Linked DNA regions of Homo sapiens. The protein of the gene in region 2 interacts with the protein of the main gene of each other region in a pairwise test. Each region holds a gene or a part of one and is shown on either strand. Other genes may lie near its edges. The genes, in order: TEX28 and TMCC3.

Region 1 (11,049 bases), on a different chromosome or scaffold from region 2:
ACCCCAGGCATTGACCACTCGGGCTACAAAGGTGAAGGAGGAGGGTGGGGCTGGGCAGGCTGGGACTGGCTATGGACCCCAGAGAGTAAAGATGGTTTTGCTGGCACCATACCCCCAACTCCAGGACTTGTCCATGCCCTGTCTACGGGGCCAAGACTGAAACCTGACTGCCTTTCACCATCAAGCAGAAGTCAGCTGCGCATCCTGTAAGAGATGGGGAAGGACCCCCAAGACCCTCCCAGAGCCCCCTGGCTCATTAGGAGGCTAGAGGGGGCCTCCTGCAACTCTGCATGCAAGGTGCCCAGATGAGACCTGGCCAGTCGAGACTTTTACTTGAAGGCTCCCCATGCCTTCCTGGGGTGCCATCTCTTCTACCAATGAACATTTTCTGAGTTTCTCAAGCCTTCTTTCCTCCTGACCCACGAAGAAACTGAGGGACCGGGGCCTTCTGGTCCCCCAGGAGACTGGCTTGTGCTGAGGAGGTAGGCCGCTCACTGTGCATCTTCTCGGAGATCTGAAGCTCCTCCTATTTCCACAAGAAAGAAAGGGAAGCTTGGCAAAGACCCTTCCATCCAGAATCATCAAGTTCGCGACGCCCGTGCTTCTCCTCAGCACACAGAGAGGAGAGTTACCAGGGGCCTCAAGCAACTCCAGCGGAAGCAGTCACAGTCCTTCCAGGACCCAGGAACGTCCTCTGCAAGGACCTACAAACCCAGACCTCATGAAGGAGGAGACCCCAGGGCCAGCCCCAAGCCTCCTGAGTCTAATTGTTGCTGTGATAGAGACCCTGCACGTCGCAGAATCAAAAAGAATATATTGTGGGTTTTTTTTTTTTTACCACAATCAATTAAAAAATGCATTAAAAAGTAAGAACTGTCCAGGCACAGTGGCTCACATCTGTAACCCCAGTACTTGGGGAGGCCGTGGCCAGGTGTTCAAGACCAGCCTGGGCAACATAGCAAGATCCCATCTCTACAAATAATAATAATTTTTAAAAAGTTAGCCAGGCATGGTGGCACATGCTTTGTACTCCCAGCTACTCGGGAGGCTGAGGCAGGAAGATCGCTTGAGCCCGGGAGTTCAAGGCTGTAGTGAACTATGACTGCATGCAGCCTGGGCAACAGAGACCCTGAAGAAAAAGAAAGAAAGAAAGAGAGATAGAGAGAGAGAGAGAGAGACAGAGAGAAAGGAAGAAAGAGAAAGAGAGAAAGAAAAAGAAAGAAAGAGAGAGAGAGATGGAAAGAAAGAGAGAAAAAGAAAAAGAAGAAAGAAAGAAAGAAAGAAAGAACTTTTGCCTATCCAAAGACTCAGGAAAAATAAAAAAGAAAGCCAGCCCTCATAATGAGATACCACTTCACAGTTACATCTGTTGGAAAAAAAAAAAAAGGATAACAACAAATGTTGGCAAGGATGTGAGGCAACTGGAAGCCTTCTGCATTGCTGGTGGGAAGATGGAGCTGCGCGGCTGCTGTGGGAAGACTCCTCTAAACGCTACACCTGGAGTCACCACGGGGTCCAGCAATTCTACTCCTGATTATAGACCCCAAAGAATTGAAAACTGGTGTTCAAACAACTGGCATGTATCTGAGTGTTCAGCGCAGGGCTTCTCACAATAGCCAAAAGGTGGAAACAACTCAAATCTCCATCCACTGATGGACAGATAAACAAAATGTGGTCTACCCATGCACTGGAATATTAGTCAGCCGTCAAGAGAATGAAGTACTGATACGTGCTACAACATTAGTGAACCTTGAAAACAGTGAAAGGAGCTAGACACAAAAGCCCACATATCGTATGGTCCCATTTATATGAAAAGTCCAGAAGAGGCAAACCCACGGAGACAGAAAGCAGATTAGGGAACGCCTGGAGCCGAGGCTAGGAGTGACCGTGTAGTGAGTCTGGAGGTCTCCTTCTGGGGTGATGAGAATGTTAGACAACCGGACAGAGGTGATGGTTGAACCACACTGCAGATGTACTTAATGCACTGAATTACATGCTTCCAAATGGTTAATTTCACATTACGTGAAATTATGTGAATTCTACATCAATTTTTTTAAGTAAGCCCTTGTCATAAATGCGTTTAATACAGTTGCTGCCTCAGCATCCAACTTTAGCAGTTGTACCCTGTCACCTTTGCCCTAGATAACACCCCTCCCTCCCTGTCATGTGATTGTTTGCGACATAGCCCACGTGGTCCTCGCCTCACTGACCCAAAACCCAACACATCCCACGGCTGCTGACCACGATAAGACCTAATGCTCAACACCAGAGTCATGTAAATCAGTTTCCTCCTCGTGCATGTTTTCTTTAAACCAGCCAATCCACAACCCCCGCAGGAAAGCCTGTGGGATCACTTCACACCCTGTGACCTTAATACAGGCACAGCCCCGGAAGCTTCCCCGCCCTTCCGTTCTGGGCTTCGCTGTTGCACAGCTGATGAGCTCAATCAGCTCCCTGCTGCCTCCAGACTTCCCCTCTGCCTCCCATCAGCACACCTAACATCTCTTCGATCTGAGTCATACATTTCTTTTTTTTTTTTTTTTTTTTTGACACAGGGTCTTGCTCTGTCACCCAGAATGGAGTGCAGTGGTGCAATCATGACTCACTGCAGCCTCAACCTCCCGGGCTCAAGGGATCCCCGCTCCCGCTCAGCCTCCTGAGTAGCTGTGACTACAGGCACGCGCCATCACGCCCAGCTAATTTTTTGATGTTTTTGTAGATACCGGGTCTCACTATGTTGCCCAGGCTGGTCTCAAACTCCTGAGCTCAAGCAGTCTGCCCACCTCAACCTCCCAAAGTGCTAGGATTACAGGCGTGAGCCCCCACGCCCAGCCCATTTCTGCTGTTTCATGCATTTTCGTCTGCCTCCTCACTGTGGCTCCCCTGACACACACATCCGAACCTAACTTTCCCACGGGTCAGGGATCTCCTAGAAACTGGGTATCTCGGCTATGGCCACTCTCAGTAGAGACATGCCGAGACCAAATTAAAAAGAAACCATAATGATAAAAACCACAACAGCCCTCCTGAAAGCAAACGGATTTAACTGTGATAAACAGCACAGGACTTGCAGTATGGATTCTCAGTTTGTGATGCACCAGAGGGGACGCAACAGTCACAGGGAGCCTGGCTGGTTGAAACACTTCTGTGTCCAGATCATGTAAAAGTTTTGAAGAAGATTTTACGGAAGTATATGTTTTTAAAATGCCATGAACTCCTGTGTCCCCTGCATCTAACTTAGCCACACAGCCAGGGTGTGGTGAAATGCTCTCAGGTCCGCACTTAGCAGCCACGTAGCCTGCTTGTGCCTCCGTGAGACTCTGCTTCCCCAACCATAAAGTAGGCGTCTGAGGGCCAAAGAACAAGGCTGCTTAACCTGGTGCCCCAGCTCAGTTACGAGCCCGTGACAACAGTGAAAAATCATCAGCAGCCCTTTCTCCTCCTGTAGACCTGCTTGGGCCCTGTAGACCTGCTTTTCTGCTCACGATGAACATTAGTAAGGGTAGGCTCGCTGCTGCAGCAAACAACCAGACATCCCATGTCACAGTCCAATGGGGGGTACCGGGTCAGAAGTGCAGGCTTCTAGAATTTGCAGCAAAAGTCTGAGAGGGGGAGAGACAGAGGTATTGCCCTGCTCCCCGGTAGTCACCGCTGTATCAAGAGCGGGCGAAAGACTCGGATTTGAGAGGGGTTAAGAGTTTACCTGAGCACAGCATTCTCATTGGCCCCTGTGGCTTGGAAACATACGGGGAAGTTTGTAACTGCCACCAAGTTCTGCTGTTGCTTAATAGAAAGCTGACCGGGTAAGTGTGATTTTCACAAAAGGGTCTTTGATGCTCCCAAGATTTTAGATTTGGTTGCCATGTCCTATGAAAATAATCTGCAAGAGACGCCTGTGACTCTGACTAGTCATCTCATTGACAGTGGTTGCCCTGTAATATTCTTTGATTGTCCTTTAACAGATTCTTAGGCCATGTAAACGCTGGCAAGATTTCCCTGGGGAAACTAAAGAGGATGATTCCCACACGCCGCTTCCCCTGCATCAGGCACTAAAAGGACTGCGGAGTTCTTCTTTTCATGCAAATGCTGAGAATCTTGGCTCACCTAAGGGAATCGCTGCCTCCCTAGCCAGGACGCTGGAGGGACTGGCGTTAATTAGCCACAGACTGCAGCGAGGGGGACAGAATGTGGCACCCCCTGAGGGCCCATGGAAACCCAGAGAACGGTCCCAATAGGAATGGAGAGAATCCGTTGAGAGATTGGGTTTGCCTTTTTTTTTTTTTTTTTTTTTTTCCTCCAATTGGTAGGCCCTAGCCTTATCTTAGAGGGAAAGAAAATCGAGCTAGGGCAGGGTGAGGTGGCTCACACCAGTAATCCCGGCACTCTGGGAGGCTGAGGCAGGCGGATCACGAGGTCAATAGATTGAGACCATCCTGGTCAACATGGTGAAACCCCGCCTGTACTAAAAATACAAAAAATAGCCGGATGTGCTGGTGCACGCCTGTATTCCCAGCTACTCGGGAGGCTGAGGCAGGAGAATCGCTTGAACCCGGGAGGTGGAGGTTGCAGTGGGCCGAGATCGTGCCACTGCACTCCAGTCTGGCGACAGAGTGAGACTCCATCTCAAAAGAAAAAAAAGAAAAAGAAAATCGAGCTACTGCACGGTGCGGAGAAAGCATTCACCAGAAGGCAGTCATTTTTGAAATAAGTATCTGAGACCCGGCCTGTGCCCCAGCTCAGCTAGGAGCACATGTGAAGAGACCAGAGCTGGCGAGGCGACTCCGGTCCTGACTCCCACCTTCCCAGCCGACTGGGACCAAAGGACGCCACCTCCCTAACTAGTGCCAGGTGTCTACCGGACTCTTGCCACCCCCATGTTGTCCCCTGCCACCACAGGGTCAGGGCCAGCCGCTATGCCGCTGCAACCACCCGGCAGGGGCTGCCAAGCTGGAGCATTTTCGCTAGCAAGGGTCAAGGCAGGTGTGGGACTGCAGGGAGAGGGCTGGCTCGCCCCACTGCAGGGCCCAGTCGCTAAAAGAAGCATGGACCTGCTCTTCCAACTGGCCCCTCACCCTGGCTCTCCAGGCTCCTGTCCTGGCTCCCTTTCACCCTCCCATAGGTGGCTCCTGGGAGCGGTTCCTCCTCTGCTTCCAGTCCCCAGAGCCAAGGCCTCACCTACACTTCTCCTCCTGAAGGGACTCCAGCAACAGCTGCAGGTCAGTCAGAGACCTCTCCTTTAGGCTGTGATAGGACTCCTGGAGGCTGATGTGGAACCTCTTGGCTTCTTCCAGCTCTGCCTTTACCTTCTGCAACAGCAGGTTTTGTTGCTGGGCCACATCCTCTGTCTCTAAGCACGTCCCCTGCTGTAAGCTCTGGAAGCGACTCTCCAAGATGAAGGGCCTGCTGGCATGAGGCAGGTTGACCGGCCCGTCTTCCCCACCTGGCTCGGGGGGCTCTGAAAGCAGGGCCTTCTCACTGGGTGGCTCGCAGTTGGCTGGGTCGCTTTCTGCCATCAGCAGTAAGCCCTCGGGCCTGCAGCCTTCCTCCAGCTCCTGGAGCTGCTGGTGACACTGGTGGAGCCTGTGCTCGATCTGGGCGATGGTGGCAGAGGCGCGCTGGTTCACCTTCTCAAAGGCCTGCTGGATGTGCGGCACCTGGTGCCGGTCTGCTTTGGATACCAGCTTGAGGTAGCTCACAGTGTTGCCATCCCGACTGGCCTTCTCCACTCTCAGCTGCTCTGAGAGGTAGAGGATGCGGTGCCTGACACTATCCTGTAAGTTGTGGGCTAGGCCTCCATCTGCGAGGCTGGAAGGGCCACTGGGGCCGTCTTCGCTGGATGACAGGGACCGGCATGAAGGCACATTGGAGGGGAGGGTTGCGCTGGGGCTCCTGGTGTGTTCCGCCTACGTTGGGAAACAAGAAATCACAATACGGTGCTCTGTGAGCCGCAAAGTGTGGGAGAATTGGACACGTTATGACTCCATAAAACACTTCCACATATGCATGGATACTTACACACGCAAGATTTGTGCATTCAAGATGGGCCCGACACAGACTGAGGAGGTGATGCTCATCTTCAGGGCCCCTCTCCCCTCCTTTTCAGCGTCTGACTCCTTGCTCTACATGTGTGCCTCACTAAGACCCACAGGTGGCCAGACTCCCTTCTACATCTGCCTGTTTTTGCACTGCACTCCTATTTTCTCTTCCAAAAATTACCAATTGTGGGTCTCATTTATAAAGAACTGTTCTTGTAAAGTATGGAATAAGCTTATTTCCGTCAACTCTTACAGCTTGCTGTATTGCTACTCCCAGGGAGACAGGAAGGGTTAGGCAGAGAGATTTGCCTCCTAACAGGTTCATTCATTCATCCAATCATTCATTCAACACATACTTTCTCTGAGTGCCTACCACGTGGTACAGAAGCCAGATACATTCCTTGATCTCATACAGCTGACAGTCTACGGCAGAAAATTCTACTGTAACACAAAAGAATGAGTCTCTCACATGGTGAGGGGATTAACATTGCCTTTGACGAAGAGCCCAGTTCAAATCCTGGCTCTACCACTCTGAGACCTTGAGCAAGTTAATAAACTGCTCTGAGGCTCAGTTTTCTTACCTCTAAAATAAAGATGGCAAGAGCAGCATAGCTGGAACCCAGCCCACCAGAGCAAGGAGCTAGGAGAGGGAGGTGGGGGGCAGCTCAGGTGCAGCCTCTGTTCCGTTTCTACTTTTTTGTTTTTTGAGACGGAGTCTCACTCTGTCACCCAGGCTGGAGTGCAGTGGTGCAATCTCGGCTCACTACAACCTTCGCCTCCCGGGTTTAAGCAATTCTCATGGCTCAGCCTCCCGAGTAGCTGGGATTACAGGTGTGCATCACCACACCCAGCTAATTCGTGTATTATTAGTAGAGACAGGGTTTCACCATGTTGACCAGGCTGGTTTCCAACTCCTGACCTCAAGTGATCCTCCCGCCTCGGCCTCCCAAAGAGTGCTGGGATTACCGGTGTGAGCCACTGCATCTGGCCTATACCTCAATTTTTAAAATGCAAAGTGATACCACTATGTACCCAGTAGATTGGTCAAACTCAGACAGACTAACAACAATAAGAGTTGGCAAGGATATAGCGCAACAGGAACTCTCAATCATTACTGGCGGGAAGCAAATTTGTACTACAGCCACCTTAGAAAACCACTTGACAGTATCACAAAGTTGAAGATATACCTACCAAATGATCCAGCAACTGCATTCATAGGCGATATTCCCAGGAGGCAAGTACACTGATGTTCTCAATATCCAACAACTAGCAACAAACCACCTGCCCAGAAAGTGTAAGTAAACTGTAATATATGCAACAACATACTACTGTACAGCAATGAGAATGAACTACAGCCTTGAAAAACATGAATGCATTTCACAAGCATAATGTTGAACAAAAGAAACCAGACAGAAAATCCATACTATATATGGTTCCATTTACATAAATTCCAAGAGCAGGCAAAACTAAACAATATTGTGTAGGGATGACTACACAGGCAGGAAAGCTAAAGAGCAGCATGGATGTTGGCAACAGAAACCCCAGGATGGTGGTTCCCACTAGAGCGGGAGAAGGGGATTATGACTGGGGTGACTGTGGAGGCTGGGGTGCCTGGCCTGAGTAGTGGTTAAATGTGTGTTCACCTTATCGTTACTTCTTAAAACATACATCAATGTTTTCTGCACCTTTATATACATATGCCAGATTTCACAGTTTTCAAACTATTTAAATGTTCAATATAGGCCAGGTGTGGTGGCTCATGCCTGTAATCCCAGCACTTTGGGAGGCCGAGGCGGGCGGAGGTCAGGAGGTCAAGACCAGTCTGGCCAACATGGTGAAACCCCGTCTATACAAAATACAAAAAAAAAAAAAAAAATGCCTGGCACAGTGGTTCACACCTGTACTTCCAGCACTTTGGGAGGCCGAGGCGGGCGGATCACCTGAGGTCGGGAGTTCAAGACCAGCCTGACCAACACAGAGAAACCCCATCTCTACTAGAAATACAAAATTAGCCAGGCGTGGTGGCACACGCCTGTAGTCCCAGCTACTCGGGAGGCTGAGGCAGGAGAACCGCTTGAACCCGGGGTGCAGAAGTTGCAGTGAGCTGAGATCGTGCCACTGCACTCCAGCCTGGGTGGTAGAGTGAGACTCCGTCTCAAAAAATAAATAAATAATAAATAATAATATGTTCAATTGATGGATTTAATGGCAGATTTGATATGGCTGGAGAGACTGTTGGTAAATTGTACAGAGGAGCTAAAGAAAGTATCCAGGCCGGGCGCGGTGGCTCACACGCCTGTAATCCCAGCATTTTGGGAGGCCAAGGCGGGTGGATCACCTGACGTCAGGAGTTTGAGGCTAACCTGACCAACATGGTGAAACCCTGTCTCTACTAAAAAATACAAAAAATTAACTGGGCATGGTGGTGGGCACCTGTAATCCCAGCTACTTGGGAGGCTGAGGCAGGAGAATGGCTTGAACCCAGGAGGCAGAGGTTGCAGTGAGCCGAGATCACGCCACTGCACTCCAACCTGGGCAACAAGAGCAAAACTCCATCCCAAGAAAGAAAGAGAGAGAGAGAGAGAGAGAGAGAGAGAGAAAGAGAAAAGAAAGAAAGAAAAAAAAGTATCCAGAATGCAGCACAGAGGCACAAAAAAATAGAAAACTTGAAAAATAGAAGACATGGAAGGTAGCATGAGTAGGTCTAACAAAAATCCAATTGTCACACCAGAGAGAGAAGACAGACAGAATGAAGCAGCAGCAATATATACATATTTTTCTTCTTTTTTTTTTAAATTGAAATGGAGTCACACTCTGTTGCCTAGGCGGAGTGCCGTGGCACAATCTCGGCTCACGGCCGACCTCTGCTGCCCGGGTTCAAGCACTTCTCGTGCCTCAGCCTCCCGAGTAGCTGGGACTACAGGCGCGTGCCATCACAGCTAGCTAATTCTTTTGTATTTTTAGTAGAGATGGGGTTTCATCATGTTGGCAAGACTGTTCTCGAACTCTCAACATCAGGTGACCCACCCACCTCGGCCTCCCAAAGTGCTGGGATTACAGGCATGAGCCACTACGACCGGCCACAGCAGCAACATTTTAAGAGATAACTCCCTAAGAACTTTCCAGAACTGAAGAAAGACACAAATTCACAAATTCAAGAAGCCCAATAAATCCTAAGCAGGGAAGACAGAAATAGGTCCACACCTAGACACGAGATTTTTTTTTTTTTTTTTTTTTTTGAAACAGTGTTTCGCTCTTGTCGCCCAGGCTGGAGTACAGTGGCGTGATCTCGGCTCACTGCAACCTCTGCCTCCCGGGTTCAAGCGATTCTCCTGCGTCAGCCTCCCAAGTAGCTGGTACTACAGGCGCCCGCCACCATGCCCAGCTAATTTTTGTATTTTTAGTAGAGACAGTGTTTCACCATGTTGGCCAGGCTGGTCTGGAACTCCTGACCTCAAATGATCCGCCCACCTCGGCCTCCCAAAGTGCTGGGATTACAAGCATGAGCCACCGCCCGCGGCCGACACAAGATGTTAAAAGCAGCCAGAGGAAAAAAAGCTGATTACCTTTAAAACCATGACTTTTAGACTGCAGGCTGCCTTCTCAATAGCATCAATGCAATCCAGAAGATAGTTGACTGATATCTTCGATACACTGAGAGAATAACTGTCAGAGAGAAAAAAATAGGTCACATTCAAAGAATCAGAAGTCAGAATGGCTTCAGACTTCAGCAACAGCATGGGGAACTAGAAGACAATGAAGTGCTGGCCGGGCACGGTGGCTCACACCTGTAATCTCAGCACTCTGGGAAGCCCAGGCAGGCGGATCACTTGAAGTCAAGAGTTTGAGACCAGGCTGGCCAACATGAGGAAACTCTGTCTCTACTAAAAATACAAAAATTAGCCAGCATTGTGGTGGGCGCCTGTAATCCCAGCTACTCGGGAGGCTGAGGCAAGAGAATCGCTTGAACCCAAGAGGTTGCAGTGAGCCGAGGATCACTCCCCTGTACTCCAGCCTGGGCGACAGAGCAAGACTCTGTCCCAAAAAAAAAAAAAAAAAAAAAAAAAAAAAGACAATGAAGTGCTGCTTTCGAAATTCTGAGGGAAAAATGATTTCCCAGCCTAAAATTCTACACCCCAACTGTCAACTGTGGGGTTAGACTAAAGACATTTTTAGACATGAAGGAGTTCAGTACACCACTGACAAATGTAAGAATTCAACAACTGTTTAAAAAGCAAGTCTTGCCAGGGCAGTGGTGTGCACCTGTGGTCCCAGCTACTCAGGATGCTGAGGCAGGAGGATTACTTGTGCCCAGCAAGTAGAGGCTGCAGTGACCTGTGACTGTGCTACTGCCCTCCAACCTGGGTGACAGAGTGAGACCTTGTCTCAAAAAAAAAAGAGCGGGGGGGGGGGGCCGGGCCGGGCGTGGTGGCTCACAGCTGTAATCCCAGCACTTTGGGAAGCCAAGGCGGGTGGATCACTTGAGGTCAGGAGTTTGAGACCATCATGGTCAACACTGCGAAACACTGTCCCTACTAAAAATACAAAAATTAGCCGGGCATGGTGGCACACACCTGTAATCCCAGCTACTGGGGAGGCTGAGGCAGGAGAATTGCTTGAGCCGGGGAGACGGAGGTTGCAGTGAGCCGAGACTGCGCCACTGCACTCCAGCCTGACTGACAAGAGTGAGATTGTCTCAAAAAAAAAAAAAAAAGTAATCACTAGAAAAGAAGCTACATATGTACATAACATCCAAATAACCAAGAGGAGAAAAAAATGGGACTTGATTAATCAAAACAAAAACAAAAAAGAAAGAAAGAAAGGGGGAGAAAAAAAAACAAGGGCTGGGTGTGCTGGCTCATGCCTGTAATCCCAGCACTTTGGAAGCCAAGGTGGGTGGATCTCTTGAGCTCAGGAGGTCAAGACCAGCCTGGGCAACATGGCGAAACCCCGTCTCTATTAAAAAAAAAATTAATACAACAATTATCCTGGAGTGGTGGTGCACACCTGTAGT
Region 2 (11,189 bases):
AACATGACGCAAGGAGGCACAAAATGCTAGCAATGCTAGAAAAGTCTATACTTTTCACAAAATTAGCAGCCTTTCCGTTTCTAAGCTCACAAATCCCTCTTTCATATAGTACAGGTCCCCTATTCAAAATGCTTGGAACTAGAAGTGTTTCAGATTTCAGATTTTGGAATTTGTTTTGTTTAGTTTTGTTTCGGAGATGGAGTCTCCCTCTGTTGCCCAGGCTGGAGTGCAATGGCACAATCCTGGCTCACTGCAACCTCTGCCTCCCAGGTTCAAGCGATTCTCCTGCCTCAGCCTCCCTAGTAGCTGGGATTACAGGCACCTGCCACCATGCCGAGCTAATTTTTTTGTATTTTTAGTAGAGACCGGATTTTACCATGTTGGCCAAGCTGGTCTCAAACTCCTGAACTCAAGTGATCTACCCACCTGGCTTCCCAAAGTGTTAGAATTACAGGCATGAGCCACCATGCCCGGCCTAGGAATCTTTGTATTATACTTACTGGTTGAGCATTCCAAATAGAAATATCTGAAATCAGAAATGCTCCTGTAAGCATTTCCTTTGAGCGTCATGTTGACGCTCAAAAAGTTTTGGATTTTGGCTTTTGGATTGAGATGCTCGGCCTATAGTAAAAGTGGTTAACATCTATTGATTTCTTATTGTGCACCCGGCATGGAGTTAAACATTTTATAGACATTACTGAATTTATTCCTCAAAACACCCCTATTATGTAGAAGTAGGAACTAAGGCTTAGAGTGATTACAGGATCCAAGATTACACTGGTAGCAAACAGCACTGGTACAAGATCTGTATTCTGGGGACTATCCTAATGCAAATGGTTCTGTAGGGAAAATAATATGGTCCTTGCATGCAGGATGGAACAGAAGTTGGTGAAGGTCATAAGTGACTAAGGTGGGGGATGATTGGGAGATATGGAAGAAACCAATTCCAGAGAAATGTCAGAGAAAGGTGCGGTGGTATTGCTAATAGGTTAGAGAGATGGGGGAGGGCAGGCACTCAAGATGACTAGCAGTTCTGATTAGTAGTGGCACCAACAAAATAGAAAAAAATTATTAACCTGACATATAGACAAATACAGCTTTTTCACCCAGTGAGAGAACATAAATTTAAAAAAATTTTTTTAAATAGCTAATATTTGAAAGCACACACCTTTTTTTTTTTTTTTTTTTTTTTTGAGAGGAAGTCTCACTCTTGTCCCCCAGGCTGGAGTGCAATGGCACGATCTCAGCTCTCTGCAATCTCCGCCTCCCGGGTTCAAGAGATTCTCCTGCCTCAGCCTTCCGAGTAGCTGGGATTACAGGCACCTGCCACCATGCCTGGTTAATTTTTGTATTTTTAGTAGAGACAGGGTTTCAACATGTTGGCCAGGTTGGTCTTGAACTCCTGACCTCAGGTGATCCACCTGCCTCGGCCTCCCAAAGTCCTGGGATTACAGGCGTGAGCCACCGTGCCTGGCTTTTTTTTTTTTTTTTAAAAAACAAATACTTTCTTATTTAAGACACACAATCACTCCCAGAAGAGTGGAGTATTACCTCTTTTACAGATGGGAAACTGGAGGCTCAGAAAGGCTATTTAGGACCTTGCCCCAGTGGTCACCCAGTTAAGAAGCTCGAAGAGCCAGAATACAACCCACGTAGGTCCAGAGCCCCAGCTGTCCACCACTATACTCAAGTGGCTGGAGAGGGCATTTTAGAACACTTAAAATGAAAACCAACTAAAAGAAAACCTAATTCACACATCATTAATAAAAGCCAGTTACTGTATAGAAAGCAGACGGCCTGTATTCTTAAAAAGATGATAGGCTTTAACTATCTAGGGCATGAAAAAAAAGTAGGAGTCTAATTATGGATGCTCTTTCTTCTAAAGTAGAGAGATATGTGCATCAAGTTAACAAGCACCATTTCTGAGTTTTACAAAGATGAAGTTTTAAAATGTGAATGATCCTGACTTGTCAGCTTAGCAACAATCACAGAATTCATTACTTACATTTTCACTAAGGGGGGAGGGGTTATCTAGGTCAGTCCACCTAGATGTAAAAATAGATTTCTGCAATGTTGAAAGAGTACACTGCCTCATTATTATTCCAGTCTCAAAGGCTGAAATAAGCCCAGCAAGACAGACCATGTAGTTTCCCTGTTATCTCAACAGGTATTGATTTTGAATTTAAAAAATGACCATTCAGTAACTAAGAACTTCATCTCATGGAGTCTTTGCCCACTTCTAGGCAGAAACTCCATATCCCTGAAAGATTAGTCGACTCTTCCCATGACCCCCTAGTTCTCATTGGCATTTTTAGGGGAGCTAATTCACCAAATGAGTTCATAAAAGGGTTCTTTTTAAATCCTATACTAGTTTCCTCCCAAGGAGATGGTGACATCAAGAAATTAGCACTCGATGTCTTCCTCTCGCATCACATACGTTCTGGGTGTCAGGAAAACATATCTTTACAGCTGCATCCAAGTGAGTTCCACAATACAGGAGCTACGATCATTTAAATGGATGAATACTTTCTGCACAGTAAAATTGTTGCTTTCCCTTCATTACAACAGACTTATTGTAGCCTCAGGACAGACTTGAAATTACATCAACCCTGCTTGAGAAAAGTTATTATTATGAGTTTACAAAAATTTCACTAGTTCTACCTATTCCTCGCTGTCTCAACAATAAAAAACCTAAAAGCAGATAGCTGAGAAGTTTCAACTGGGACCTCAAGAAGTCCAGCATCACTGTAGTAGAATTTGTGATTACGGTCTGCTGAAGTTCTAGCCCTTCTCTGATTTCCTCTCTTCACTAGATCTGACTGGCCCAATGTGCTAATTTACGATAATCCGCACATATAATGTCTAACTCAGTTTTAATACACAGCTTATTTAAAAATCGGGTATCTCCATGCTAACAATACAAGGCAGCAGGTACAATAACATTGTCAGTAGAATTGTTTTATTTATTTATTTATTTATTTATTTATTTATTTAAAGACAGAGTCTCGCTCTGTGCCCAGGCTGACGCGATCTCGGTTCACTGCAACCTCCGCCTCCCGGGTTCAAGTGATTCTCCGCCTCACCCTCCCGAGTAGCTGGGATTACAGGCGCCCACCACCACGCCCGGCTAATTTTTGTATTTTTAGTAGAGACAGGGTTTCACCATCTCGGCCAGGCTGGTCTTGAACTCCTGACCTGGTGATCCACCTATCTCGGCCTCTCAAAGTGGTGGGATTACAGGCATGAGCCACCGCCCCCGGCCCGTCAGCAGAATTTTAAAGAAAATCAAGAAATCACATAAGGTTTTGACCTTTTAATAGAAAAGACTGGCGTAGACAGGCAACAGTGGCAGATGCGGCAGAAACACTCTGCAGTTACCTTACACAATTGCTTTACCACATTCCACCTAAGCAGTTGAGGCACAAACTTTATCACCACCATTTTACAGGTTATGAAGAGTGAGTTTTGTAAAGTTGCATGAGTTTTGCCAAACCACTTAAATGAGTTGACAATGAGCCATCCATCCCGCTAAGATTACTAATCTTGTTTACACAAAGAAGATCACAGTTGTGACAAGAAAAAACAAGCTTTCACATTTCAAGTCTGCAATATTAACTTTACAGAATCCTCTCAATTACAAATGCATTCGAAGATGATCTCCTTTTCTTCATAGTTCTGTTAACTAGCATTACAGCTATCCAAGAAGAAATGTCTACCTGTGGGTAAGCACATTTCTTCAATGTTTATTCCAAATGGAGTTTCTGGTTATTTTCACAGCAAACTGTTACGAAACTTATACACAAAGTGCAAAAACAAGAGAATTGTAAGATTGAGATGAGTGCATGAGGTATTATTCCACCAAATATATTCAATCTGTAAAAACTCAAATCATCCTTCCAAAATGATTAACAGATGCTAAAGGAAAAAGGGAAAGCGGGCAAATAAACCAGAGACTCATTGCTTCACTTCTGGGGCAATCGATTACTACTTCAAATTATGAGTGAAGACCAAAATCCTGCACAAAGGGCCGCGACACAACCCCGTCACTATTGCTACTATTTCCATCCAGTTGGTCTCTCGATCTTGGAAGTGGCAGGCCAGAATCTGAGCCCGGCTCTCCCTCCGTGAACTTTACACAGAGGCTGACACCCAAATCCCCAGTTCTCGGACAAGCGAGTAAGTAGTTGGCGGAGCAAAGAACAACTCCAGGTGCCTCCTGCCAGAACAGATGCCAGCGTGGAGGAGGTGCTTTGTTAAATGGCACTTCAATCAGCCCTGGGGAGAACGGGTTACAGAGCCTCACATCCAGCCTCGACGATTCAACAGCCCGGGAGGGCAAAGGTATTCACCGGGGAGGGCGAAGGCTTCCTCTCCCAGGACAGACCCGCGCTTGGGCTGCGGCCTCCGTCTTTATTTTGAAGCCCTACAGGGCTCGTCTCTGCAGCAGGCTCAGAATGAGCTATTTTCGCCCACAGCCAAAATCAGCAACAGCAAATTACACTGCAAACAATGGCGAGGGCGCCTGCTCGGCTCGGCTCGAAACTCCGGAGAGGCAGCGCAAAGATTCTGACTTTTCACTTGGGCAGAGCCCGTCCGCCGCCTCCCCGCGCTCCGGCTGCGCACCGCGCTCGGGTTCCGGCCACACGCCCCGAGGACAGGGAGACAGGGCGGCCGCCGGGACGTTCGGCGGGGAGGGCACCGTCACACCCAGGGCGAGACCCCGGAGACCTGGAGACGCGGGGCCGCGGGTGGCCGGGTGGCGGGATTCCCTCGCGGAGCGGCGGGCGCTCCCTGGCGGGGAGGACAGCAGAGCGCGGGCCGTCGGGGAACCGGGCGTCCCGCATAGCGCGCGGGGACCTGGGCGCCGTGAGGGGCAGGCGGACCTGGGATCCCAGAACCGCAGCCTGGGCTCCGACGCCCCCGACGCCCACCCTTTTAGCTCGGAGGATCGGGGAGGCACGGACCTCCGGCGGCAGCGGAGGGCGGCGGCGAAACGCCGGGGGCGCGTGGGTTAGCACTGAGCCGCCGCCCCAGCCCGCCTCGCCCCCGGGCCCGCGCGCACCCGCCGCCCCCCAGCCCGCTGCGCTCACCCGGCTCTTGCAGCGGTGGTGCCGGCCGGGGTACGAGTAGGTCCGGTCCACGGTGAGCGCCGTGTCGCTGCCCGGCATCTCCGCGCTCCGGCCGCGAACTTTCCCGTCTTCTGGGGCTGCCGCGCCGCGAGCCACCGGCTGTGCTCGGGATCACCCTGGGAGCCGCGGGCGAGGGGGCGGCGCGGCTGCTGCAGCTGTTGCCTCTGGTGCCAACACCCGCGCGGCCGCCCTGCGCCGCCGCCGCCGCGGGGTGGGGGAGGCGGGGCAGGAGGCGAGAGTCTCCTCCCCCTTCCCTTCTCCCCGCCTCTCCCGCGCCCCGCAGCCGCCTGGACCCCCCACCCACCCCCGACCCGGGAGGCAATGTCTTCGCCTCCCTCCCTGGCTGAAAGTTGATTCCATCCCCTCCCACACAGCCCTCTTTCTCCCCAAAAGATAAGCGACATCCACACTACACTATCTGTTGACTTATTTTATATATAAAAGGTGACTGTTACTGCAAGAAGTTGACACTTGCCTTAAATGCCTCTTTTTATGTTATTCTCCATTCAACAGGCACTTACTGGGCAGCTGCCATGTACCAGACGCTGGACTAGAGACCAGAGATTTAAAGTAAAAAAATGAAATAAAATAAAAACTCCCCCCGACCATGATTGCCCTGAGCATAGAGCATACTTCCACTTAAACTAAGATCCTACTGTGTTGTGTATTTTAATTTTGCATATCTGGCTCACCTTTATGTTTCTTTCTTTTTTTTTTTTTTTTGAGACTGAGTCTCGCTCTGTCACCCAGGCTGGAGTGCAGTGGCGCAATCTCGGCTCACTGCAAGCTCCGCCTCCCGGGTTCACGCCATTCTCCTGCCTCAGCCTCCCAAGTAGCTGGGACTACAGGCGCCTGCCACCACACCCAGCTAAATTTTTTTGTATTTTTAGTAGAGACGGGATTTCACCATGTTAGCCAGGATGGTCTCGATCTCCCGACCTCGTGATCCACCTGCCCTAGCCTCCCAAAGTGCTGGGATTACAGGCGTGAGCCACTGTGCCCAGCTTACCTTTATGTTTTAAGCTACTTGGAAGTCAGGATATCTTTTCATTTTAGTATTCCCCATTCCCAGTCATCAGTCCCTGCCCACAAGGAATTTGGAGTTTAGAAGAGGAAGGACCATTGGTGAACAATTTAAATATCAGTAACCCCAAACAAAATTCAAAACACCTGTTCTGGCTCTGTAGGGTGTACAGTGGGAGACTGGGCTGAAATATTTAAAGTGCAGCTGTTCCAGAGAGGACCTGGAGCCCAGTGTGACCAGTCCAGGGGGAGGGAAGGATTTCCCTCATAGGGTTCAAAGGGGACGGTAGAGCAGGCTGAAGAAAACTTTGGAGCCCCTAAAATCAGAGGTACATTTGGGAAAACCTCAAGTCATCAGTTTTGGGGAGTGTCCTCAGGAACAGGAAGACATGATGGAAAAGAAGGCAGAGACCATGCAGAATCTTCGTTCAAGGGTAAGAAGTTCAGCCTTATTCTGTGGGAACTGGGTAGCTGTTGGAAATTCTTGAACAGGGAAATGATAGCATGGGAATGGAAGTTTAAGGAGAAGGTATATCTGACATCAGGGTGAAGCAGCGATTGAAGATGGGCAAAACACACTGGCTTCTTAGAAGGCCACTGTAAAGACAGAATAGCCTAATTATCCTTCAGAAGGAGACTAAGTAAATAAATGATGGTACATCATCCAATAGAATATTAGGTAACTGGAATAGAAATGAGGCAGCCCTCTATGAATAGCTTTGGAAGCAAATCTAACATACATGGTTCAGTGGAAAAAAAGCAATGTGCAGGATAATATATATGGCATTCCACCATTTATGTAAAAACAATATATGTTATGTGCTTCTACATGCACGACATATATCTGGGAGGATAAATAAGAAACTAGGGAAACAGACAAGAAATTGATGCCAAGAGAGGGGAACCAGGTAGCTAGAAGGCAGAGATGGAGAGAGATCTAATTTTCACTGTGTATACTTTTGAAACTTGAATGTTTATACTGTGGGCATATATTAACTATTCAGAAAGTAAAATTTTTTAAAAAATGTTTTTTAGAGATAGGGTATCTGTTGCCCAGGCTGGGGTGCAGTGGCACAATCATAGCTCACTGCAGCCTCAAATTCTTGGTCTCAAGGGATCCTCCCACTTCAGTTTCCCAAGTAGCTAGAACTACAGGTGTGTGCCACCATTTCTGGCTAATTTTAAAAATATATTTTTTTGTAGAGAAAGGGTTAAAACTAACTTAAGAAGAAATTGAAAGTCCCATGTAGTCCTTAAGCCATTCAAAAAATTAAATCAACACTTTTAAAAATACCCATCTACCACTACCCCAACACACAACTATACTAGACCCAGAGAGTTTTTCAGGTAAGTTCTTTGAAAGAAGAGAAATACCAAACGCTGGGGTGTGTGTGTGTGTGTGTGTGTGTGTGTGTGTGTGTTGGAGGGAGATTTTAGCTAGGGTGGCTAGAGAAGTCCTCCATGATAAGGTGACCTTGAGCAGAGACTTGGGAAATGAGGAAGCCAGAAGTATAGACATTGAAAATTTCCAGCAGACAAACAGAAAGTCAAGGGCCCTGAACATTTCGGGAGTGTTCAAGGAAGAGCAAGGAGGCCAGTGTTCACTGGAAAGAGATGAGGTCAGAGACATTTCAGAGGGCCAGATCATATATGGACTTTCATTCTATTTTAAGAACTTTAATTTTAGGCAGGGCGTGGTGGCTCACGCCTGTAATCCCAGCACTTCAGGAGGCTGAGGTGGGCCGATCACCTGAGGTCAGCAGTTCAAGATCAGCCTGACCAACATGGAGAAAATCTGTTTCTACCAAAAATACAAAATTAGCCGGACATGGTGGCGCATGCCTGTAATCCCAGCTACTCAGGAGTCTGAGACAGGAGAATCGCTTGAACTCAGGAGGCAGAGGTTGTAGTGAGCCAAGATCATGCCATTGCACTCCAGCCTGGGCAACAAAAGCAAAACTCTGACTCAAAGAAAAAAAAAAAAGAAAAGAAAGAACTTTAATTTTGGGGAATATGGGAAGATTTGGAAATTTTTGAGCAAAGGAGTGGCATGATCTACCTTTTCACTTGGATGAAAATAAAATTGATCTCTACCTCACAGCATAAACAAAAACCAATACCAGATAAAGGAAAAATAAAGAAAAAAAATTAGCTGGACATGGTGGCTTGCACCTGTAATCCCAGCTGTTCAGGAGGCTGAAGCAAGAGGTTCACTTGAGGCCAGGAATTCAGCCTGGGCAACAGAGCAAGACCTGTCTCTAAAAAAATTAAAAATTAAAAAAAAAAAACAGATTAAAGACTTAAAGTGGAAAAAACACAACTTAAAATTGTCAGAAGAAAATGAAAGAATATCATTATTATCATCTCAAGTAAAAAAAAAAACAAGACACAAAAAGCATAAACCACAAAGGTTTGACATTAAAAAAATTAAACTTCTGCTTATGAAAATAAACAATAAAGTAAAAAAATAAGCCACAGACCAAACTCCAGCTAAAAAAAAAAATCAATATGGACAAATTTCACAAACAATACTGAGAAACAAAAAAAGCAAGCCACAAAAAATTACTTGCAGTAAGATTCATGTAGGCTGTGTGGTAGCTCATGTCTATAATCCCAGCACTTTAGGAGGCTGAGGTGGGAGGATCACTTGAGCCCAGGAGTTCGAGACCAGCCTGGGCAATATAGTGAGACCTTGTCTCCACAAAAAAAAAAAAAAAAAGATTCATGTAAAGTTTTTGTTTGGTTGGTTTTTTTGTTTGTTTGTTTTTGGTTTTGAGACAGAGTCTCACTCTGTCGCCCAGGCTGGAGTGCAGTGGCACGATCACAGCTCACTACAACCTCTGGCTCCCAAGTTAAAGTGATTCTCATGCCTCGGCCTCCTGAGTATCTGGATTGCAGGTGTGCACCACCATGCCCGGCTAATTTTTGTGTTTTTAGTAGACATGGGGTTTCACCATGTTGGCCAGGCTGGTCTTGAACTCCTTGCCTCAAGTTCAAGTGATCCACCCGCCTCACCCTCCCAAAGTGCTGGATTGCAGGCGTGAGCCACCACGCCCAGCCTTCCTGTAAAGTTTAAGAAAAGCAAGAGGATAATAAACACAAATTTCAGGACAGTATCTCTGGTGGGGAGATGAAGAAGGCTTCAATAGAAAAGGGGTACACAATTATAAATATATAATGCTCTTTAACAAATGACTGTTGGTACACTGGATGTACATTCATTCATACATACACACAATAGTGAAGAATAATTTAAAATTTTAAAGGTAACAGAGTCTCAAAGGAACAGATATGGTGATATCCTTAATTCTGGAATTCAAATCACCAGTTAGGGGTACCTTCTCAAATAAATAAACATAATAGCACTTTACGTGTGAATAAACTCAGAGAGGCCCTGACAAACCAGGGTTGGGCTTTGCTTGGGGGTACCAACAGGCATCTACTTTCCATTTCTATTACTGTCTTGATGTTTCTTAGAATTCCATCCTGGAATGCTGACCCTCAATGAGAAGGATAAATTAAAACTTTATTAGGCTCATTTAAATGTCAATTAACAAAGGATGTTCTTTTTTAGATCATTTAAATTTATTTCATAAGCTAGTTGCCCAAAAGCTGCTCTGCTGGGCACTCATACAAAATTATTTTTTAAAAATATACAAATTAAATAGCAGAAGAGCAAGCTCCCCAGAACAGAAAGAAAACAAGCAGTGCTGATCACCATCTGGGTCTCCTTTTGGGAGGCAGAACCCAAGGGGAAAATAGACCACATCCCCTCCTTTGGACGCAATGCCAATGCCTAGGGTTTTGTCAGCCCTGGAGAGAGAGAGAGAGGGAGAGCGCAGGTGCAAATTCCTCCTGTCAATGTAAGAATTCTGTGCTTTTGATACCTCCAAGAGCCTCTCTCTGCAGAAAGTATGGAAAATATCGCACTGTTAAAATAACAAATGCAGTCAGAACAATAAGAAATACAAAGGTTCATACCTAAGGTGTGAAATAAGAATTTACTTGCAAACTATAAGGAAGGAGCACAACAAGACAGCAGATGCTAAAAGCACCAAAGAAGAGACCAGGTCATTTGAGCTGTAATAGTTTAAAGTTTGGAGTGAAAGGCCTATGGAAAGAGGTAGGACTACACTTGACTTTTGTAGTGCGTGTTTGTTGTTTCAGCCTGCCCAGGATCCCACCCCTTATTCTGAAGACAGTACCTAGGTTTTCTATTGGGACCTACCCTACTCCTACTTTTAATCCAAATGGCTTAGATAAGGTGGACCATTCCCATCCTTGGATCTAGAGAGTGGCATGTCATCCAGCCTTGGCCAGTCAGAGTCACTGTGGCTTGTGCAGGGATGGGCACATGAGCTAATCAGAGCAGATGAGAGTCATCCCCAGACTTTTGTCAGAACTGCTGGGAAAGCCTATGCCCTTCCAGTGGGCATTGCTAAGCTGGTACAATGCAAGCCTGATGCTGTAGTGGACATCCTTCCACCATATAAAGACAGCCTCCCTGGGAAAGCAGAGCCATGAAACGGAGAAAGACTTCTTACTAAATCCTTAGAGCACTAGATCCAGCATTTTCCATCTGCTATCGCTGCATGACAAACCACCTTAAAATGCTTTGGCTTGGCCAGGTGCAGTGGCTCACGCCTGTAATCCCAGCACTTTGTGAGGCAGAGGTGAGTGGATCACCTGAGGTCAGGAGTTCGAGACCAGCCTGACCAACATGGTGAAACCCCATCTCTACTAAAAATACAAAAATTAGCTGGGAGTGGTAATGGGCACCTGTAATCCCAGCTACTCAGGAGGCTGAGGCAGGAGAATTGCTTGAACCCGGGAGGCGGAGGTTGCAGTGAGCCAAGATCACGCCACTGTACTCTAGCCTGGATGACAGAGCGAGACTCCATCTCAAAAAAAAAAAAAAAAAAGGTGTTGGCTTACAACAATAACTACCTCTCATTAGCTCATGATTCTGCAATCTGGGCAGGCCTCCAAGGGAGGTGAGGTGGCTTTTCTCTGTTCCATGTGGCACTGGGGGGGGGG

The links.
Region 1: the proteins of TMCC3 (region 2) and TEX28 interact in binary tests that used the Homo sapiens proteins (3 or more experiments, as listed by UniProt).

Annotation. Positions count from the first base shown.
Region 1 is NC_000023.11:154,282,505-154,293,553, forward strand, and holds part of TEX28 (testis-specific protein TEX28), read right to left. Parts: intron 9,702-11,049; coding exon of another isoform or gene 9,614-9,701; coding exon 9,602-9,613; intron 7,317-9,601; exon of another isoform or gene 7,248-7,316; coding exon of another isoform or gene 7,227-7,247; intron 5,904-7,226; coding exon 5,176-5,903; intron 1-5,175.
Region 2 is NC_000012.12:94,645,263-94,656,451, forward strand, and holds the start of TMCC3 (transmembrane and coiled-coil domain protein 3), read right to left. Parts: upstream 5,296-11,189; 5' UTR 5,169-5,295; coding exon 5,091-5,168; intron 4,342-5,090; exon of another isoform or gene 1,176-4,341; intron 1-1,175.